Linked DNA regions of Homo sapiens. The protein of the gene in region 1 purifies or fractionates together with the protein of each later gene. This does not show direct contact. Each region holds a gene or a part of one and is shown on either strand. Other genes may lie near its edges.

The links.
Region 2: the proteins of MCEE (region 1) and CLUH purify together in Homo sapiens (co-immunoprecipitation; 2 studies listed by BioGRID and IntAct, with this or other methods). This does not show direct contact.

What each region holds. Positions count from the first base shown.
Region 1 is NC_000002.12:71,125,092-71,135,985, forward strand, and holds the start of MCEE (methylmalonyl-CoA epimerase, mitochondrial precursor), read right to left. Parts: upstream 5,139-10,894; 5' UTR 5,129-5,138; coding exon 5,089-5,128; intron 1-5,088. Other genes in the region: MPHOSPH10 (U3 small nucleolar ribonucleoprotein protein MPP10), read left to right, coding at 5,575-5,663, 7,807-8,485, 8,857-9,014, 9,535-9,706. UniProt on the Homo sapiens protein: Methylmalonyl-CoA epimerase involved in propionyl-CoA metabolism.
Region 2 is NC_000017.11:2,693,053-2,703,100, forward strand, and holds part of CLUH (clustered mitochondria protein homolog), read right to left. Parts: intron 9,006-10,048; coding exon 8,862-9,005; intron 8,686-8,861; coding exon 8,561-8,685; intron 8,469-8,560; coding exon 8,314-8,468; intron 8,214-8,313; coding exon 8,088-8,213; intron 7,774-8,087; coding exon 7,626-7,773; intron 7,423-7,625; coding exon 7,330-7,422; intron 5,539-7,329; coding exon 4,844-5,538; intron 3,891-4,843; coding exon 3,667-3,890; intron 3,487-3,666; coding exon 3,382-3,486; intron 3,208-3,381; coding exon 3,107-3,207; intron 2,475-3,106; coding exon 2,322-2,474; intron 2,229-2,321; coding exon 2,166-2,228; intron 2,050-2,165; coding exon 1,805-2,049; intron 1,513-1,804; coding exon 1,428-1,512; intron 1,225-1,427; coding exon 1,071-1,224; intron 988-1,070; coding exon 848-987; intron 1-847. UniProt on the Homo sapiens protein: mRNA-binding protein involved in proper cytoplasmic distribution of mitochondria.

The DNA.
Region 1 (10,894 bases):
TTCACTGGCCTCAGCCTCCCAAGTAGCTGGGATTACAGGTGCCTGTCACCATACCCAGCTAATTTGTGTGTGTGTGTATGTGTGTGTATATATATAAATATATATATATATATATATATATTTTTTTTTTTTTTTGAGACGGAGTCTCACTATTTCGCCCAGAATGGAGTGAAGTGGCGCGATCTGGGCTCACTGCAACCTCCGCCCCCCAGGTTCAAGCGATTCTCCTGCCTCAGCCTCCCGAGTAGCTGGAATTACAGGCACCTGCCACATGCCCGGCTAATGTTGTATTTTTAGTAGAGATGGGGTTTCGCCTCATTGGCCAGGCTGGTCTCGAACTCCTGACCTCAGGTGATCCACCCACCTCGGCCTCCCAAAGTGATAGGATTAGAGATGTGAGCCACTGTGCCCACCCTAATTTTTGCATTTTTAGTAGAGATGGGGTTTCACCATGTTGGTCAGGCTGGTCTCAAACTCCTGACCTCAGGTGATCCACCCACCTCGGTCTCCCAAAGTGCTGGGATTATAGGTGTAAGCCACCATTCCAGTCAGTTTTTAGCATTTTTAAAATTCACTGTCGCTGTGTCCTCATCAGATAGTTTCTTGATCTCCACAGATAACTCTGCATTCCATTCATTTAGCAAACAGTCATTGCATGTCATTAACAACAAGAATGGCCTGAATTTACTGTGCACCTACTGTCTGGCACTGTATTTATTTTTTTACACCAACTATCTAATATTCACAACAAACCAAGTTAGAAACTTAGTAAGTTTCATTGTTATCATGAAATCCAAGTGGATTACAACCGAGTACACATATACATAAATGTACAATTGAAACTAAATTGCAAAAAAAGAATACCTTCCACCTCAGCCTCCTGAGTAGCTGGAACCATAGGCATGAGCCACCATGCCTGGCTAATTTTTGTACGTTTTGTAGAGATGGGGTTTCACCATGTTGCCCAGGCTGCCCATGTTGCTCCTGGGCTCAAGCGATCCTCCGACCTTGGCTTCCCAAAGTGCTGGGACTACAGATGTGAGTCACAGCACTAGGCCAGTGAAAATGTTTTGAAATAGACAAATGTGATAGTTGCACTAACCCAGTGAATGTAATAATTACTGTTAAACTGTACTTTATTATTTATTTATTTTGAGACGAACTCTTGCTCTTTCACCCAGGCTGGAGTGCAATAGTGTGATCTCGGCTCACTGCAACCTCCACCTTCCGGGTTCAAGCGATTCTCCTGCCTCAGTCTCCTGAATAATTGGTATTACAGGCGCATGCCACCGCACCCGGCTAATTTTTGTATTTTTAGTAGAGACAGGGTTTCACCATGTTGGCCAGGCTGGTCTCGAACTCCTGACCTCGTGATCCGCCCACCTCGGCCTCCCAAAGTGCCGGGATCACAGGCATGAGCTACTGTGCCCAGCCTAAACTGTACATTTTTAAAGGGTTTTGTTATGTACATTTTACCAAAAAAAAAAAAAAAAAAAAAAAAGATCCAACAATAAAAATCCAAAGGTGAAATTGTGTAGACCAAGCAAACTGGGTAGAGAACACTGAATAAAGGAGTTAAAAAGAGACAGAGCTTTATATTTAATAAAAATGTGTTCCTGAAAAGTTTGTTGTGAATTGAACTCTTAATTATTATATTTCTCCTTTGACTTGTAGAAACTTTTTTCCAGCTTGAGGTATGATGACTAATAGAAACGGTGTATCTTTAAGGTATACAATGTGATGTTTTAATAAATGCATAAATTATGAAAATGATTACCAACACTGAAGCTACCTTTTTAAAGCTATTTTTATTTCAGGTTGCCCTCCAACTAGCAGGAATTCACAGCTCTTTAGTTTTAGATTTCTCTGCCTCCCATTTCAGAATAGTGCAGCAGAATTGCATTATTTTGAATTCTGCAATGTTTAATTTGTGATTATTCCAATAAAGGTTGCTTTGCATGAATATACTACAGTGTAAAACCATGTGCAAATAAATGCATAAGATATTTAAAAACAGAAGTGTTAATAAAAAACGCATGTAAAGATGAATACAGATTAAAGAAACTATTTTCACATGTCAGGAAGCTGGTATACAAGTAAAAGATCAAAATCGGATGTGTATGTTAACTCTCATTCCAATCTTCCTTTCAATATCAATTCTCGTTAATCACTTTTAGTGTCCTGACTTAAAAACAACATTGCATTTCTTTCAGTTCAGATTTTGCATTTATTTCAGATCACACTTTTTAGACACTGTCCCTGAATACATAAAGGTTTAGCTGCAAGGATCTATACTCAAATGCATTAAGAGTACTTACTATTTAAAGACATTAGATGTTAAATTTGTATAAAAAGTACTATAAAAGTGAATAATCACTTGTAATAGGTTTTTTAACAGCTTTATCTCTTAATAGTTTTTAAACAGACTTAAAATTTATATACCATAAAGTTCACCCATTTGAAGTGTACAATTCATTTCTTTGCATCTTTGCAAAGTTGTGCGACCTTCACATAATCTAATTTTAGAACACGTAATAAGTTTGTTTGTTTTTTTGAAACGAGTCTGGCTCTGTAGCCCAGGCTGGAGTGCAATGGCGCAATCTTGGCTCAGTGCAACCTCTGCTTCCCAGGTTCAAGCAATTCTCCTGCCTCAGCCTCCGGAGTAGCCGGGATTACAGGAGCGCGCCACCACGCCCGGTTAATTTTTGTATTTTTAGTAGAGATGGGTTTTGCCATGTTGGCCAGGCTGGTCTTGAACTCCTGACCTCAGGTGATCCACCTTCCTCAGCCTCCCAAAGTGCTGGGATTACAGGCGTGAGTCACCGCGCCTGGCCGAACATAAGTCTGAATTTTCACTGAATATCTGGTTTGAGGAAACATACGTATTTAGAAAGTCATTCATTAGAAGTGCTTTCAAGTTAGTCTGGTAAGTTTTCTCTTAAACATTTGACCAGTTAATTTCACAGCACCATATATATATCTTCAACTTGTTTCAAACTATGATCAATTTTTTTTATTCATTACAGTAAGTAAACAGATTACATTTCTGTTAGCCCATTTACAGACGATTAATGAAAGTAAACCTATGCAGTCATGTAAGTTGGTCATTCTTGTCTCCCACCTAACAGGTTCAATTTCCATTTTCAGAACTTTTCTACGTGTTCACTCTGATTTTTCTGTGCTTTTGTTTTTCGGCGAAGTTTTATGTTCCTTAAAAGAGGGGCCATAACATAGAATTACCATGTAATCCAGCAATTCCACTTATGAGTATACACACCCCCAAAGAAGCGGGAATTCAGAAGTATTTGTACACCCACGTTCATAGCTGTATTACAATAGCCAAAAGGTGGGGATAACCCAAATGTCTATCAAGAGACGAATGGATAAACAAAATGTGGTATACACACACAATGGAATATTATTCAGTCTTAAAAAGCAATTTTTTTTTTTTTTCTGAGACGGAGTTTCGCTTTGGTTGCCCAGGCTGGAGTGCAGTGGCGCGATCTTGGCTCACGCCAACCTCCGCCTCCCGGGTTCAAGCGATTATCCTGCCTCAGCCTCCCGAGTACCCGGGATAACAGGCGTGTGCTACCACGCCCGGCTAATTTTTGTATTTTTAGTAGAGACGGGCTCACGCCTGTAATCCCAGCACTTTGGGAAGACGAGGTGGGCAGATCACCTGAGGCCAGGAGTTCCAAACCAGCCTGGCCAACATGGTGAAATCTCGTCTCCACTAAAAATGCAAAAAATTAGCCGGGCGTGGTGCCGGGTGCCTGTAATCCCAGCTACTCGGGAGGCTGAGGCGGAAGAATGGCTTGAACCTGGGAGGCAGAGGTTGCAGTGAGCTAACGCCACTGCACTCCAGCCTGGGCGACAGAGTGAGACTCTGTCTCAAAAAAAAAAAAAAAGGTAAATTTTACTTTATGTATATTCAACCACACACACACACACACAAGTGGAGACATTAAGCTTCAAGTATCTTAATAGGACAAATCAAAGGCAATCTTTGGAATACACTGTCTTCATTTTTCCTTTATGCCAAGATGTGTATGTAAGTACAAAACAAACATGCACCTTTATCTGTATTGAGTTCTTGCAGTATGTATATGACCTGTTGGAAGTCATACTTTTTCCCAAACTGTCAATCATTAAAGTGTGCAGTTCTAAAAATAGACATAAAAATGCCTTTTCCCAAATATTCATTTATTTATAGTTTTACGTTCCTATCTTGTGTATCACCTAAGAGGAAGGTATGCCTTACGGTTAAGAATGTGGGCTCTGGTGCTAGAAGGATTTATCACGAATGTCCCGGAGTAACTCTGGGGCATTACCACTTGGCACCTTCTTCCTAATAGGGAATCTCAGATTAAGGGAAATACTTGCCCTCTCATAAAAGGAGGAAGAGAAAAAAAAAAAGGATAAAAAGAGGAGAAAGTGAGTCAGAAAACGTGACAATTATTACAGTTATTTCTGTCATAACTGATTCTATGTACATATTTTAAAAAAAATGAAGGGGGAGAGAACTCAAGAAAGTTTCCAAATCCACATGCTTTTATCTGTGTACGCGATAAATATATTAGTGCACGTGGAAAAACCACTCCTTTTGTATTCTTTACACCACTGACCTTTGAGTGTTCCCAACAGAAAGCTGGTCACGCTTGGAGTTCGGCCGACTAGTAGTTGTTGTTTTTACGGAACGTGCTCTCCTTTCTGGTTTCTCCCCAGTCTCTTTATTGGTGCGCGGTAAAATAACTTACCGATCCGCTTCTATTTACTTCTGTCCCTGCCCTGCCTGACCTGCCGGGCAAGTTCCCTCGACTCTCCCGCCCACATACTGGAAGGTGCAGAGCCCAAGGCGCACAGCTCTCGGATGGAAATGGGACTCATGCACAAGGCAATCCCCGCTACTAAGCGGTGGCGCTTCTGGAAGGCACCCTCTGCCTAAGTGACAGCAGCTGCTGTGGAACGCGCCCCCGGGGGAGGACATTAGATCAAGGTGCTTTGGCCACGCCGAGGCCTCCTCCGCCCCCGACCGCCGTTCCCACGCTCCCTGTCCCATGGCGAAGGTCGCCGGTGCCCGGTATTCACCTACGGCATTCGCGGCTGCAGCCTTCAGCACCCGCGCCATTTTGGAAAGCAACCCGCCACGTCAAGACTAGCCACGGAGGTTGAGAGACGCGCGGCAGAGGGCGGGGCGGGAGGCAGAGGGGGCGGGGACAGAAAGGTCAGGGGCGTGGCGAAGGTCGCTGCTTTCCTGCTACAACGGGCCTACTTTAGCTAAAACAGAAACGTAAGGCCAGGACGGGTCACCCTTTGTGGGCCCCTGAAAAATACAAAACGAAGTTTGGAGAGAGTTGAAAGGCGTTTGGGCTGACCATGGAGATTTTTGTTTCCCACCCTCCTGCGAAAGCGCTCGCGCTGCCATTGGCTCTGGCTGAGGGCGAGTCCGGAACCTGTGCGCCGCGGAACTTTCGGCTCTGAAATCCAAGTTGCGCTGGGCGCATCTTTGCCGCGCGGTTTCCGGGCGGCTCCCTTCCCTTGCATGCTGCATTGTGTCGGGAGTTGCTGACAGCCATGGCGCCGCAGGTCTGGCGTCGACGGACCCTGGAGCGGTGTCTGACGGAAGTCGGCAAAGCCACGGGTCGGCCCGAGTGCTTCCTCACGTAAGTGCGCAGATCCCGGGCTCGGGGTGCGACCGGGGTCTCACGTGGACGCGGGTTGCAGGCCTCCGGCAAATTGTGGAGCTGGGGGAAGGTAAGGGGAAACGTAAAATCGCTTTTCCCCAAATTTCAGAGTTTATGCTTTCCTAGGCTATCAAAATTTTAAAAACTGTTAAAATTTGTATAGATGGATCTCTCAGTTGAGTGTTACTGAAATCACTCTAACCTCAATTGTTAACACCTAGAAGCTTCCCTTGGGCTTCTTACGCCCCCATCCCTCTACACACAGACTGTTGGTTTCTCCTTCCTCCTATGTGCTCTCAAAGCACTTAGCGCTTAGCATACTTTATTGAAAGTACGAACTTGTCACTTGTCTGTCCACCCCCCATGACTAAGCTTCTTCAGAAATAGAACTTCCATGTCTCTTCCCAACACAAGCGTTTTATATGTATTTTGTTGAAGAATTTAAAATGTGATCTATGAAATTATTACTCATTTATGTTTCAAACCCCAACCTTTCCCTGAGTTCCCAGCTCACAGCAACTACAGACTGAGCTTAGTTTGAATTCCGTAGCACACAACTGGGATATCCACACTGTACAACTTTTAACGATTTTTAAAATTTTGGTACTGTCAAGCATCTCAAATTCACTGCGTCCAAAATAGAGCTGTTGTGTCTGTTTAATAGAATTGTTGTTTCTACCCACCTATACTCTGCCATCCCCTGAAGTCCTTTTCCCATGCTACACCTGTCAAGCGCGTCTGTGTGAAGAGACCACTAAAACAGGCTTTGTGTGAGCCACAAGGCTGTTTATTCACTTGGGTGCAAGTGGGCTGAGTCCGAAAAGAGAGTCAACTAATGGTGATGGGGAAGGGGTTGCTTTATAGGAGTTGGGTAGGTAATGGAAAATTACAGTAAAAGGTGGTTATCTATTAGCAGAGGAGGACGGGGTCACAAGGTACATGGTGGGGAGATCATAAGACTTATTGTCCAGAAGAAGAATGTCACAAGGTCGATTGATCAGTTAAGGTAGGGCAGGGACAAGTCACAATGGAGGAATGTTGTAATGTTGATTAATCAATTAAGGCAGGAACTGGCTGTTTTATTTCTTTTGTGGTTTTTCGGCTGCCCCAGACTTCTTGGCTCCTGCAGGCCATCTGGACATATATGTGCAGGTCACAGGGGTTACAATGGCTGAGCTTCAGCTCAGAGGCCTGACACCACCACCCAAGCCTTCCCTATCTCAGTAAATGGCACTTCTGTCTTTTCAGGTACTCAAACATAAAACTAGGCTGCTACTTTAATGTCTTCATTTTTCTCTATTCTATATCTAATTCTTTAGCAATCCTGTCAGTTCTACCTCCAAACTATACTCAGCATATTCACTGCTCTAACTCCAGTCTAAATCACCATTATCCTTTCGCTGGAATGCTGCATCAACCTTCTAATCACTGTACTTTCCTCCTCCTCCCTCGTCCCTTTCTCCTTCCTTCGTGTAAATCATCATTTCATCCCTCTGCTTAAAATGTTTTCTCTTTACACTTTAAATGACAAATTCTTACTCCTGAACCATGCATAATTTGGCTCCCATCAGTCTCTCCAGCTTCACCCTCTGCCTCCTTCACACTCTAGCCATGGTCACCTGTTTGTTTCCTCAAGCTCACCTCTAGAGGATTTGCATCTTAGAGGATTTCTTCTGCCTGGAATACATGTTTCCCAACCTTTATAAGACTATCTCCTTATCTGTAGGTTTCCTCTCAGATGTGACATCTAAGAGAGGTTTTCCTTGACCACTGTAGCCAAAGCAAATGTTGATCATTGAATGAATAAGTGAACAAATGAATGGAGTGGTATATAATGTAGCAGAATTGATAATTTAAGGTTAATTCACTATATATCTCCAAGCAAATAGATTTATAATGGTTTTCCTGCCTAAAATCTATACAGCCGATTCACAGATACTTGGTTGACAGGTTTTATATATCAGTGTAGCTCATCAGCTTATATGTTGTTGGGGGCCAGAATCTATACTTATACTTCATTCAAATTTTATTTTACAAAAGAGTTGGGTTTTTTTTATTTTTATTAAGAGTGCTGTGAAATTATTACCTGTAATTCTAAATCTCACTTAATTCCTCCCAATAGGATTCAAGAGGGATTGGCATCAAAGTTCACTTCTTTAACAAAAGTGCTTTATGACTTTAATAAAATATTAGAGAATGGTAGGATCCATGGAAGCCCCTTGCAAAAACTTGTGATAGAAAATTTTGATGATGAGCAGATTTGGCAACAACTGGAATTGCAAAATGAACCAATTTTACAATACTTTCAGAATGCAGTTAGTGAAACAATTAATGATGAAGATATCAGTCTTCTCCCAGAGAGTGAAGAACAGGAACGTGAAGAGGATGGTTCAGAGATAGAGGCTGATGACAAGGAGGACCTAGAAGATTTAGAGGAGGAGGAAGTGTCCGACATGGGTAATGATGATCCTGAAATGGGTGAGAGAGCTGAAAACTCAAGCAAATCTGATCTGAGGAAAAGCCCCGTTTTCAGTGATGAGGATTCTGACCTTGACTTTGATATCAGCAAATTGGAACAGCAGAGCAAGGTGCAAAACAAAGGACAGGGAAAACCAAGAGAAAAGTCCATAGTAGATGATAAATTCTTCAAACTCTCTGAAATGGAGGCCTATTTAGAAAACATAGAAAAAGAAGAGGAACGAAAAGATGATAATGATGAGGAGGAGGAAGATATTGATTTTTTTGAAGATATTGATTCTGATGAAGATGAAGGGGGACTGTTTGGAAGTAAAAAACTTAAGGTAAAGTTTTGAGAGAAGAGAGAGCACTTTCCTCCTCAAATTAGCTTTTCTTCTGTTTTTCTAGGAGAGATTTAATTGTAGTTAGAAGATTTAGTGATAAGAAATATTGTGCTCTATCTTATCAGTTATAAATGAATCTGTACTTCCATTCAATTTATGTTCCAGTTGGTCTTATAATTTTGTGGTAGTGTTATTAGTTGCCATTTTCACCTAATAATTATTTAGTTATTAGTTTGGTTATTAGTTATTAGCTTGTAGTGTTATTAAGTCAGAAAGTAATATATACATACAATATACATGCAAATCTATATGCATGTGTTAATATATTTTTCTATCCCTAATTAATAGTTTTTAATATCTTTTTATTTTAGTCAGGTAAAAGTTCCAGAAATCTGAAATACAAAGATTTTTTTGATCCAGTTGAAAGTGATGAAGACATAACAAATGTTCATGATGATGAGCTGGATTCAAACAAAGAAGATGATGAAATTGCTGAAGAAGAAGCAGAAGAACTAAGTATTTCGGAAACGTGAGTATTTTGAACCATCCTTTACATTGTAAGCTGGAATTGCCCAATCATGTGTGTGTACTCGTAGTTATCAAATGTGTTTGTCTTAGCAAGTTCTATTCTCTAATATCAGATATTCTCAAGATAGCCAGAGGAAAGTCTCTGACTGTAAAGGGACATTAGAGATCACTTAATGAAGAAAAATATCTCTGGTAGTAGCAATCAAACCTTCCTTACCAGGAACTTTGATTTGGTTTTGTGTCAATAAAATCCTGTTATTTTTGTGAGATAAGAGATTTGTATTATAGATTGATGAATAATTTATTTTCTATATGTTGGACACTTTTTTTTCTGTTTCTTACATAGCGTTTTACCTAAATAATACCTTTTGTTCCTTAATAACTGAATGATTTTGGAAGTTCTGAGTATTTGGTTGCATTAGGTATATAAAATAAGAACTTTATTAAGGGAAAATTTGTTTCCTTTTGTTTTTCTAATGGAAAGTAGTATATTTCTTTTTATAAGAGTTTTGGTATTGTAGGGATGAAGATGATGACCTTCAAGAAAATGAAGACAATAAACAACATAAAGAAAGCTTGAAAAGAGTGACCTTTGCTTTACCAGATGATGCGGAAACTGAAGATACAGGTGTTTTAAATGTAAAGAAAAATTCTGATGAAGTTAAATCCTCCTTTGAAAAAAGACAGGAAAAGGTAATTAGTAATTTAAGGAATTTTTAATATACTTGATATTAACCATCCTTTGAAAACTATTAACCATCCTTTGAAAACAAATATCTTGGCCAGGTGCAGTGGCTCACGCCTGTAATCCTAACACTTTGGTAGTCCAAAGCAAGAGGATCGCTTGAGCTCAGGAGTTCAGAACCAGCCTAGGCAACATAGTGAGACCTTGTCTCTACCAAAAATACAAAAATTAGCTGGGCATGGTGATGTGTGCCTGTAGTCCAGCTACTCTGGTGTCTGAGGTGGGAGGATCACTTGAGCCTAGGAGGTTGATGCTGCGGTGAGCTAAGATTGCATCACTGCTCTCTAGCCTGGGCGGCAAGCAAGACCTTGTCTTAAAACAAAAAACCAAAAATCTTGCCATATGGAAAGCATCTGATTTGCAAAATCAGTGCCTGCATTTCAGTTTGGGGCCTGTGAGTAAAATAGTTGCTTCTGCTGGGCGTGGTGGCTCATGCCTGTAATCCCAGCACTTTTCGGGGCTGAGGCAGGTGGATCACTTCAGGTCAGGAGTTCGAGACCAGCCTGGCTAACATGGTAAAACCCCATCTCTACTAAAAAAAAAAAAAAGTAGCCAGGTGTGGTGGCGGGCACCTGTAATCCCAGCTAATCGGGAGGCTGAGGCAGGAGAATCCCTTGAACCCAGGAGGCGGAGGTTGCAGTGAGCCGAGATGGTGTCACTGGACTCCAGCCTGGGCGACAGAGTGTGACTCTGTCTCAAAAATAAAAAAATTTTTAAAGATAATTGTTTTTTTCTCTGTCCCTAATATCTTTATATGTATAGCATGTCTCTCCTGATAAAGCTGTCCTGTGAGCATCTTAACTGTTTCCACTGTTTTGGAGGATACCACATATGTCTTTTCTTTTTCTTTTTCTTTTTTTTTTTTTTTTTGAGACAGAGTTTCACTCTTGTCACCCAGGCTGGAGTGCAGTGGCGTGATCTTAGCTCACTGCAACCTCCACCTCCCAGGTTCAATCAATTTTCCTGCCTCAGCCTCCTGAGTAGTTGGGATTACAGATGCCCGCCACCACGCCCAACTAATTTTTTTGTATTTTTAGTAGAGACGGGGTTTCACCATGTTGGCCAGGCTGGTCTGAAGCTCCTGACCTCAGGTGATCCACCCACCTTGGCCTCCCAAAGTGCTGGGATTACAGGCG
Region 2 (10,048 bases), on another chromosome or scaffold:
CCACAGAGAGCTCCACACACCCATGTCTTACACCCAACAAAATCTCCACAAACACCCAAATACAAACCTAAAACTACTAAAAATGTTACAAAAAAAAAAAAAAAGCCTGAGCAGGGGTGGGTCCCTTGAGGTCAGGAGTTTGAGACCATCCTGGCCAACATGATGAAACCCCATCTCTACTAAAAATACAAAAATTAGCTGGGTGTGCTGGCTCACGCCTGTAATCCCAGCTACTCGGGAGGCTGAGGTGGGAGAATCGCTTGAGCCCAGGAGGTTGAGGCTGCAGGGAGTCGATATCACGCCACTACACTCCAGCCTGGGTGACAAAGCAAGACCCTGTCTCAGAAACAAACAAACAAACAAACAACCCACCCATTTATAAACAGAAGAAAAAACAGTCCCTTTGCAGGGAGTAGGGATCCTAAGACATGCTAACCCTGAAACAGCCCTGGCCAGGCAGGGCACCCAGAACCCCACCACAGCCTCCACCAGCCCCGGCCAGGCAGGGCACCCAGAACCCCACAGCCTGCACTGGGCACAGAGGACGTGGGAGCTCGGTGGCATGCTTCCTGCCCACTCACGGAGTCTCAGGAGGCGTCCTTGCTGACGCCCTGTGGGGGGGTCCCCTGCCATCGCCTCCCAGAACTGACCTCACCGCAGCACAGGGTGCTCCTGAGCTCTCCCGCTCGGGACACAGTTACAGAGGGGTGGAGCCAGGGGTGGCCTGGGCAGAACCAGCGACTTCCTGGGGTCTCCCTGGACTCCACCCACTCCTCCGTCAGGGGCCCCCTCACTCCCCATCCCCCAACACGAGGCCAGGCCTTTGCTGCCACAGCCCAGAGGGTACCTCTGCGTAGTCGCCCATGATGTAGTGGAGGCGGGCGAGGAGGCGCAGGCAGGCGCAGGTCTCCACGTGCATGGCTCCGTAGACGTTGTTAAACAGGTTCAGGGCCTCATTGATGAGCTCACAGCCCTCCTTCAGGAAGCCTGCAGGGCACCCCCAGGGGTGGCAAGGTCAGGACGGGCCATGGGGAACCCCCACCTCCACCCAGCCCCACCTGGCCACACACCCTGCTGCACTTTGGCCTGCCCGCTCTGGAAGAAATGGAAGGCATCCGAGGCCTTGGGGTTGACGTGCTTGACCACGGGGAAGATGTTGAGCACGTCCTCCTCGGTGAACGCGGGCTTGTGGCGACTGTCGAAGCTGTACTCCTTCAGCAGGACCTGGGGGGCAGCCCCCCCACCACAGGAAGCCTCAGGCCCAGGTTCAGCGGGTTGGCACCTCCCAACCCACCAACGCTTGCGCACAGACGGCTACCGTGAAAAAGCCACTTCCCCTGTGGCCCTGGCCAGGAGTGGGAGCCTGCAGCAGGGACGCAGCGGGGACACAGCGGGGACACAGCGGGGATGCTGTGAGCCATGCCCACCTGGATCCCTGTTTTCAGCGAGATCTCCCGCAGGAGCGTTATCTTCTGCAGGCCGTAGGTCTCCACAGCCTGGTCCACGGTCTCACTGAGGAGGGAGCAGGGGGCCTGAGCAGCCCAAGCACCGCCGGGCCCCCCCAACACCGCCCCACCCAGCTCCCCAACGCTGTCCAGCCCGGGCCCCCAACACTGCCCCACCCGGCCCCCGGGAGCCTCCCGGCTGCCCTCACCCTCCAGCACCCAGTGATCTCCACAGCTGCTCCCTCTTCTCTCTGACTCCCTGGCCTATGACCACAGGCCTTAGACGCCATCTGGGAGCAGGTGGTGGCCGCCTCATCTGCCCAATCCCACCCACCCCACCGCCCCTGCCCCGCACGCACCACTCGAGGTCGAAGTCAAAGTAGTTCTTGGCCTCCTGGCAGATGTTCTTCCAGAGCTCCTGGGGGGTCATGACAGCCCAGGCTGTGTTATCTGCAGCCCCCGGGGGCCGGTTTTTCCTCCTCTTATTCCGCTTCTTGGAGACCAGCTCGTCGGCGGGCAGGTGGGCCACGGGGTTTGGGTAGGAGCTCAGGAAGCAGTTCAGGAAGTGGCTGATGGCGGCTGAGAGGCCGGAGAGCTCGACTCCCTGCGAGGCAGGTTGGATCCGAGTCATGAGGGCCCTCAGCCCCACCTCAGGCTCTTTCCCGACGCCCCACACCACCCTGGGAGGCCATGGCCAGCCGCAGAGCGGACGGGTGGCACCTGTAAGTACGTCTTGAAGATGTGCTTGGCCGAGCGGGTGATGAGTTCTCCAATGCCGATTTTCTGGAAGGATTCAGAAGGGAGGTCTTGGTCAGGCCCCCGGCCTCCATCCCAGTCCCACAGCTCCCGTTCCGCCCCACCCCGGGCAGCACTCACAAAGACGTGGTCCAGCTGGTGGCGGGCCGGGCTCCGCAGCACCAGCTCCAGCACCTTGCCCAGGTAGCGCATGTTGATGCCCCGCTGGCGCATCACCTCTGCCAGCGTTGCCCCGTCCACGGGCAGGACCGCGTGCTCCATGCAGTCCTTCACCTGCGGGCTGCAGCAGCTCAGGCCCCCACCCAGCTCCTCTGCCTCCACCCAACTGAGTCCTTCTGGGGGAGCACAGCTATCCTGGGAGGCCCTGGAGAAGGACCCCGAAGGCTCCAGCTCCCAGTCAGGATGTCAGAATGTGCCCAGCCTCTGGCAGGAGCGCAGGCCAAGAACCAAGAGCCCGGTGGTGGTACAGGCCCCCTCTAACCATGTGGGAGAAGCAGAGGTGCCCGCTTGGGGGCACTACTTGACCCCCAGCCCCGTGTCCTGAGGCTTGGAGGCCACGGTGTTGGGGGAGCACCCAGCATCCTGGAACCAGACACAGAGCCTGCGGGAGGAGGAGGAGGATGGGCAGCCCCCACTGAGCTCTGGCCCCGTCCCCCAGCCATGCCACCATCCAGGGCTCAGAAGACTGGATTACCAGCTGCCAGCCCACACGGTGGGCTCAGCAGGGCCTGTGCCCTTGACCTCTGGGGGTCAGGCTCCCCATCTGTCAAACGGGGATGCCCACTCAGGGAAAGCTGAAAAAGTCACTCCTGCGAGCCTGTGTTCATGGGCCTCCAAGTCGGAGACAGATGAGGGACCAGCACCCTCCACACAAGCCCCACCCAGCCCCGCAGCCCCTCCCTCACCAAGCCAGGGATCTGGCAGGAGAGCAGGAAGGCAGCCGCGTCCTTCAGCAGCTGCTTCTGGTCCCGAACTTCATCCTGGCAGGACTCAGGGAAACGAACCCCTGGAGGAGGGAGAGCAGAGAGGCTGAGCCAGGCAGTGGCAAGACAAATGCCGCCTGGCGCTGGCGGGGGAAGCGCTCAGATGGGGGACAAACCCACCAGCCCCAAGGGCCCAGGCCCCCCAGCGAAGCTCTGGCCCTGGAGGGCTCCTGCGCTGGCCGGCCCCCACCACCTGCCTGGTGAGAAGATGTCAGGATTGAAGCGAATGTCGAAGGCGGTGCTGCTGATGGAGCCGACCGCCTTGCACGCGTTGCGGATCACCTCCCGGCTCCGAGGGTCTGCTGTGGAGACATGGCTCCATGAGACACGGGTCCCCTCTGCCACCGGTGGAGCTGGGCTGCGCCAAGCCTCGCCCCCTAGCTCCTTGCAGAGATGTCTGCCAGCCTCTCCCAGGTGGGGGTCATAAGCCACCCTGGCAGGGCCAGCCCGGGCTCTCTCCCGGCCATCTGCAGCAGCCCCACCTGTGCCGTCGTCTGCGGCGATGGTCTCTGCCAGCTCCTTCACCTTGGCCAGGCCGCTGGCGCTGCTACCCTCCTCCTCACTTCCCGCCTCCTGTCCTGGAGGATCCTCAGACTTGGACTCCAAGGAGGAAGGACCACCATTTTCCAGGGAGGAGGGGGTCTCCAGCTGGCTGGCGTTCTGCTGCATCAGCTGCAAGGCGGCCAGCTTCATAAAGAGGAGGTACCTGGAGCAGAGGAAACAGGGCAGAGCAGGAGCTGGACATCGGGGAGAGGAGCTCTGCTGGCCCACGGCTCCCGGCAGCTGGGGCTCCACACCCCGCAGGCATAGGGCACCTCCTGGCCGGTGTGCATGAGTCAACGCAGAAAAACCAAGATCTCCCAAGACAGGAAGAAAAAGGCGGCCGGGCGTGGTGGCTCACGCCTGTAATCCCAGCACTTTGAGGACGAGGCAGGCAGATCACTTGAGGTTGGGAGTTCGAGACCAGCCTGACCACCATGGAGAAACCCCGTCTCTACTAAAAATACAAAAAATTAGCTGGGCGTGGTGGTGCACGCCTGTAATACCAGCTATTCGGGAGGCTCAGACAGGAGAATCACTTGAACCCGGGAGGCAGAGGTTGCGGTGAGCCGGGATCGTGCCATTGCACTCCAGCCTAGGCGACAAGAGTGAAACTCCGTCTCAGAAAAAAAAAAAAAAAGGCAGCTGCGTTCTGGAGGGTATGGGAAAAGAGGAGCTCCCCATCCAGGTCAGGGCTCTCAACAGTGACAGGAAGCCACTGGCATTTGAGAGTTACTCATGCTGTGGGACCTCTGACATGGCCATTTCCCCATTTCCTAAGCACTAAACACCAGCGGCGGGGACCCCCGGTGCCCCACCTGCCCGCCCCAGCACGGGGACAGTCACAGCCACCCAGACTTCCAAGTGCTCCTTAAGAGAACAGTGTCCGCCACAGCCACATTACCCGCCTGGCTGCTCGCGAGTCTGCAGCCCGGGTTTCTGCGCTCGGGAGCCTGACAGCAGGGCAGGTGGGGACGGGTCTCCAATGACTGTGGCTAGACGGAGCCCTTCTTCACTCTCCAGCGCTTCTCCCTTCAAGGACCCAACCCCGGATCCACCCAGGGCGCCCGCACTCCCTGCAGCTGGCCCCGGCCCTGGTCCGGCAGGGCCGCCCCTCACCTGTGCTCCACGAAGGCGTCCACCAGCTCCTGGCGCAGGCAGCAGAGCTTGTGCCGGTGGGCGCGGGGGAAGCCGGCGCGGGCGCATTCCTCAGGCAGCTCCTCGCCAGGCACGGGCAGGAAGTTGAGGTCCGGGGGGAAGGTGCGCAGCAGGTCGAGGATGTAGTGGCGCCCGTCGTTGCCAATGATGCCCTTGCACTCGACCGAGGAGCAGAGCTCCACCTCCTCGTCACGGTCGTTGAGCACCTGGTGCCGCAGGATCTTGAGGGGCCGACTCGTGCGCTCCAGCAGCTCCAGGTACCGCGGGTGTGACACCACGGTCTTGCCGAAGTCGATGGAGCCGTAGATGACGCTCTGCTCCTGGTCCCGCTCCAGGATGCCGGGGATGATGGACTGGGCCGTGACCCGGTAGCCGCGGTAATCCACCACCACCGTGCCCAGCGTGTACAGCCCCTCCACGTCCACCGCGTTGTACGTGCGGACGCCATTCAGGTCGTTGGTGGGCGCCACGTAGGCCGCCACGTCCCCCCCGAAGTCCTTGTAGTGGTCTCGGACGTCGAAGCCCAGGCTGAAGAAGATGTTGTTCCAGATGAACATCTGCATCTTGGTCTCCTCGCTGGGGTTGATGGCCATCACGTTGCCGTCAATGACGGCCATGGCGCCCCTGGTGGCTGCCGCGGTGAAGTCGCTGTGCACCTGGCGGGGGTCGAGGAGGGCAGGGTTAGAGGCCGCGCCCACAAGAGCCTGCATCCACCTGGCCAAGCGCACGCACCTAGACCGCGGAGGCAACCGGGCCTGCCTTGGAAACCCAAGGACCCGGAGCCTCAGTTTCCTCATATGTAGAAAAGGGCAAGAAAACCATGTTTTGGCCGGGCGCGGTGGCTCACACCTGTAATCCCAGCACTTTGAGGGGCCGAGGCGGTCAGACCACTTGAGGTCACGAGTTCGAGACCAGCCTGACCAATATGGTGAAACCCCATCTCTAATAAAAATACAAAAAAAATCAGCCAGGCGAGGTGGCGCGCGCCTGTAGTCCCAGCCACCCGACAGGCTGAGGCAGGAGAATTGCTTGAACCCGGGAGGTGGAGGTTACAGTGAGCCGAAATCACACCACTGCACTCCAGCCTGGGGGACAGAGTGAGACTCCATTTCTAAAAAAGCGCAAACAAACCAAAACCCCCATGTTTTGAGAATACACTTGTGCTGAGGGAGACAGCAGGGCTTAGTGATTAACAAGCGTGCGCAGGTTTGGGATCCACCAGTTATGTGCCAGGTGAACTTGAACAGATAAAGGTATTGACCTTTACAAGTTGTCCAATATATTATAGGAAATAGTCTCTATAACGCACTTGGCACCATCTCTGGTGAAGTCGGTACCCGAGAAATGAGTTTTTGTTTCTACAATTATCATCTCTAGGCAGTATAACTATGGGAGGTTGGTTGTTTTCAGACAGGGTATCACGCTGTTGCCAAGGCTGGAATGCAGCGGCACGAGATCCGAGCTCACTGAAGCCTCGACTTCCCCTGGCTCAGGCCATCCTCCCACTCCAGCCTCCCGAGTAGCTGGGACTACAGGCACATGCCACCATGCCTGGCTAATCTTTTGTATTTTTTGCAGAGACGAGGTTTCACCATGTTTCGTAGGCTGGTTTCCAACTCCTGGGCTCAAGTGATCTGCCTGTCTCAGCCTCCCAAAGTGCTAGGATTACAGGCGTGAGCCACTGTGCCTGGCTGAGATTTCTTTTTTTTTTTTTTGAGACGTAGTCTTGTTCTGTCGCCCAGGCTGGAGTGCAGTGATGCAATTTCGGCTCACTGCAACCTCCGCCTATTGGGTTCAAGCAATTCTCCTGTCTCAGACTCCCGAGTAGCTGGGACTACAGGCATGCGCCACCACACCCAGCTAATTTTTGTATTTTTAGTGGAGATGGGGTTTCCCCATATTGGCCAGGCTGGTCTTGAACTCCTGACCTTGTGATCCGCCCGCCTCGGCCTCCCAAAGTGCTGGGATTACAGGCATGAGCTACTGAAGCCGGCCTGAGATTTTTTTTTTCTTAAGCAACTGCTTTTCCTCATTTCTCTTAGTAACCCAGCACTAATAACTTTTAAACCCCAGCAAACTAAAAGTGTTATGCAAATGAGCACCCGCCCTAGAAGGGCCATGGCCGGCCAGTGCTCGCCCAGGCAAAAGCCCCGCAGCAGTCACAGAGGGCGGGAAGCTGCACGGCCCTGGACACTCAGTCCCTATGGGAAGTAGGGCCCGCTCCTTCCAGGGACTCAAAGCCTCAGAGAGGCCAGAGAAAGGTACTGGGATGGTCTGCTGGGAGGCGGAAGGCTAGCAGACCCTGCGGGAGACGCTGACTGGCCTTCGGGGAACCTGACAGGGTTAGGGCTGCCCCTGCCTCCCTTGCTTTCCTCCTCTCCATGAGAAAACCCGTCAGCAGGTGGACAGCGGGCCTCAGACTGCCGGTCAGCAGAGGCTGCAGGCACCTTGAATATGGCCCTTTCTCGGAGCAGCCGCTCAGGCAGGTTCTTGCGAGGCAGCTCCCTCGTCGTCTGCAGCTCCTCATTCCAGTCTCGGGTCTGCAGAGAGATCAGGGAGGGAAAAACGAGCTCAGCCTGTGCCCTGTGACCTGCTCCCGGAAGTCGCTCCTTCTACCTTCCTGAGAAGAGCCCCAGACTCCCAAATGAAGTCAAGCATGGGGCCTCCAGGGAAGTGCACGGAACCAGCCCAGCACCCAGGAGGGCAGGGGTGCCCAGCGAGGGCAGGGCCAGGTTGCAGGCACCTGTCCAGGAATGTGCTCCTCATAGCCCAGCCTCGAGGTGTAGGCGTCCTCTGCACGCACGCAATCCATGGCATGCTCCGCCTGGGGGGCTGTCCAGCTGTACACCTGGAATGGGGTGGCGATCCTCTCGAACGGGTGGCGCTGGACCCTGTGGCAGGCAGGGGAGGGGGAGATGGGGCAGCCCACCAAGCTCAGAGCCCTTCCACGGGCCCCTTTTCTGAGGCCCCCGCCTGCTCCGGCATCTCCCACCCTGAGACACTGCCCTGGAGCCAGATGGAAGTGCACGGGCGCCTCTCCTGCGGCTGCTGTCTCGGCACTGGCCGACAGCTCCCTAGAGCGGGGACTCCAACACTGGGGGCCCAGGGCGGTTTCTTCAGACAGAAGCACTGGAGTGCAGGTGGGCCGGCTCACCCCATGCCCCCGTGTGCCATGAGACAAGGCGGGAGGGGACAAAGGCACTACCTTTTCTTCTGCAGCACAGCGAAGTTCTTCTTGAAGGTCGGGCTGATCTGGTTGAGCAGCTCCACTAGGGAATGGCTTAGGAAGCGGGGGCTGGCGGGCTTGGGGTTGAAGTGATAAGCTGTGGACCTGCAGGGAGAGGGCGGGCACTGAGCGGGGGCCCAGGTGTCTGCCCAGACCCAGGACGGCTGGCACGGCAGGGGGGTGTGGTGGGCTGGCAGGGACTCACTGATTCAGGTAAAAGCCCCGTGTGGACGCGGTGATGCTGACTTGCCGGTCCTCGGCTGTGATCACAAACAGGTACATGAGGTCCCCGTGCATCTTCCGGTTCCCCGGGGGCGGGTTCCATCCGCTCATGGTGAGTACTTTCAGGCACTGCAAGGGCTTCGGGAGCGGCCGAGTCTGAGGGGCCAGGCCTCTGGTGTGGGGCCTCCACCCCGCCAGGGACCCTCTTCCTCCCTCCCCCAGGATCCTACCTTCCAGTCACGGTTTTGGGGCTGCAGGGGACACAGTGGCCGCTCCCGGCTCCCTGGCAGGATGTACTCGGGTGGTGTGCAGTCGATGGGGTCCATCTCCAAGCCCTTCTTCCGCTTCCCGCTGTCTGAGGGACCCGAGGCTGGTGGTCAGCACAGGGCCACCCAGGGCCAGCTGTCTCCCTACCTCCTGATGGCCGTGGTCCGGGTGCCTCAGGCCCAGGCCCCTCGGCCCCTTCTCCAGCCCCCCACCTCCGTGCTCCCCGCCCTTTGGCCCAATCCCCGGCCCCAGTGCCTCCCGCACCTCCCAGGTCGCCGTCGGTGAAGACACTCAGGAAGGACAAGGAGTTGCAGTCAACCCCGTTGAAGGCATCGGATGGGTCCAGGCTCTTGAGCAGGTCTCGGACATGGCGCACGTGGATGCGGGCCTCACGCACCGTGTACGGCTCTGTCAGGAAGGCAGGGAGGGTATGGCGTTACCAGGGCCCTGCACCCTGAACAACCTGCCCAGCACAAAACAGGTTTTGGAGGTGCTAACACAGTGGTTTTAATTTTCAACTTTAGGTTTCCGTTTTCAAATTCCACTGTGAACACATAAGCTGGAGTTCTGGTTTTGACACCACAAACACACACACACACACACTCTGCCTACTGGTGAGCAGGGATCTTTGTTTATAAAGAACTTTCTGCCAAATGCCTCTGAAGCACACACAGGCCTCAGGCGTCCACAAGGCTGCCTGCTTTTGTGCGCCAGTGTGTCGGCTGGGCAGGGCTTTTGGAGCTGTGGGACTTCCACACCACAGCCTTGCCCTGCTCTCCCGAGGCAGCCTCATGTAGGGGTGGCCTGAGGACTTTCCAAGGCCCCCAATGTCAACACTGCCCCTATGTGGTTTCATGGGATTTTAATGGCAGTTCTTTTGGTGGAGGGGAGAGGTTCCGTGATCAACTGTGGGCGCTGTTGAGCTACAGACCTTTTCCGTCACTGCTCTCAACAGGCGGACAGGCCCTGGGGTGGAACCCAAGCAGCTTCTACCCAGAAAACTCGAGGCCACAGACCAACCGGATGGCACCTCCCCGTGCCCGACCTCCCCACTCTAGGGCTAGGAAACGTTTGGGACTTCTCATGGATCTCTACAGAACTGAACTGCGCTGACTTCACGCCCTGGGATGGTACTGCCTGATTTTTTTTTTTTAGAATCACGGCTCTGTTCTTTTGTTTTGTTTTTTTTTTTGAGACGGAGTTTCGTTCTTGTTGCCCATGCTGGAGTGCAGTGGCACGATCCGGGCACACTGCAACCTCTGCCTCCCAGGTTCAAGTGATTCTCCTGCCTCAGCCTCCCGAGTAGCTGGGATTACAGGCACCTGCCACCACGCGCAGCTAACTTTTTGTATTTTTAGTAGAGATGGGGTTTCACCATGTTGGCCAGGCAAGTCTCCAACTCCTGACCTCAGGTGATCCACACGCCTTGGCCTCCCAAAGTGTTGGGATTA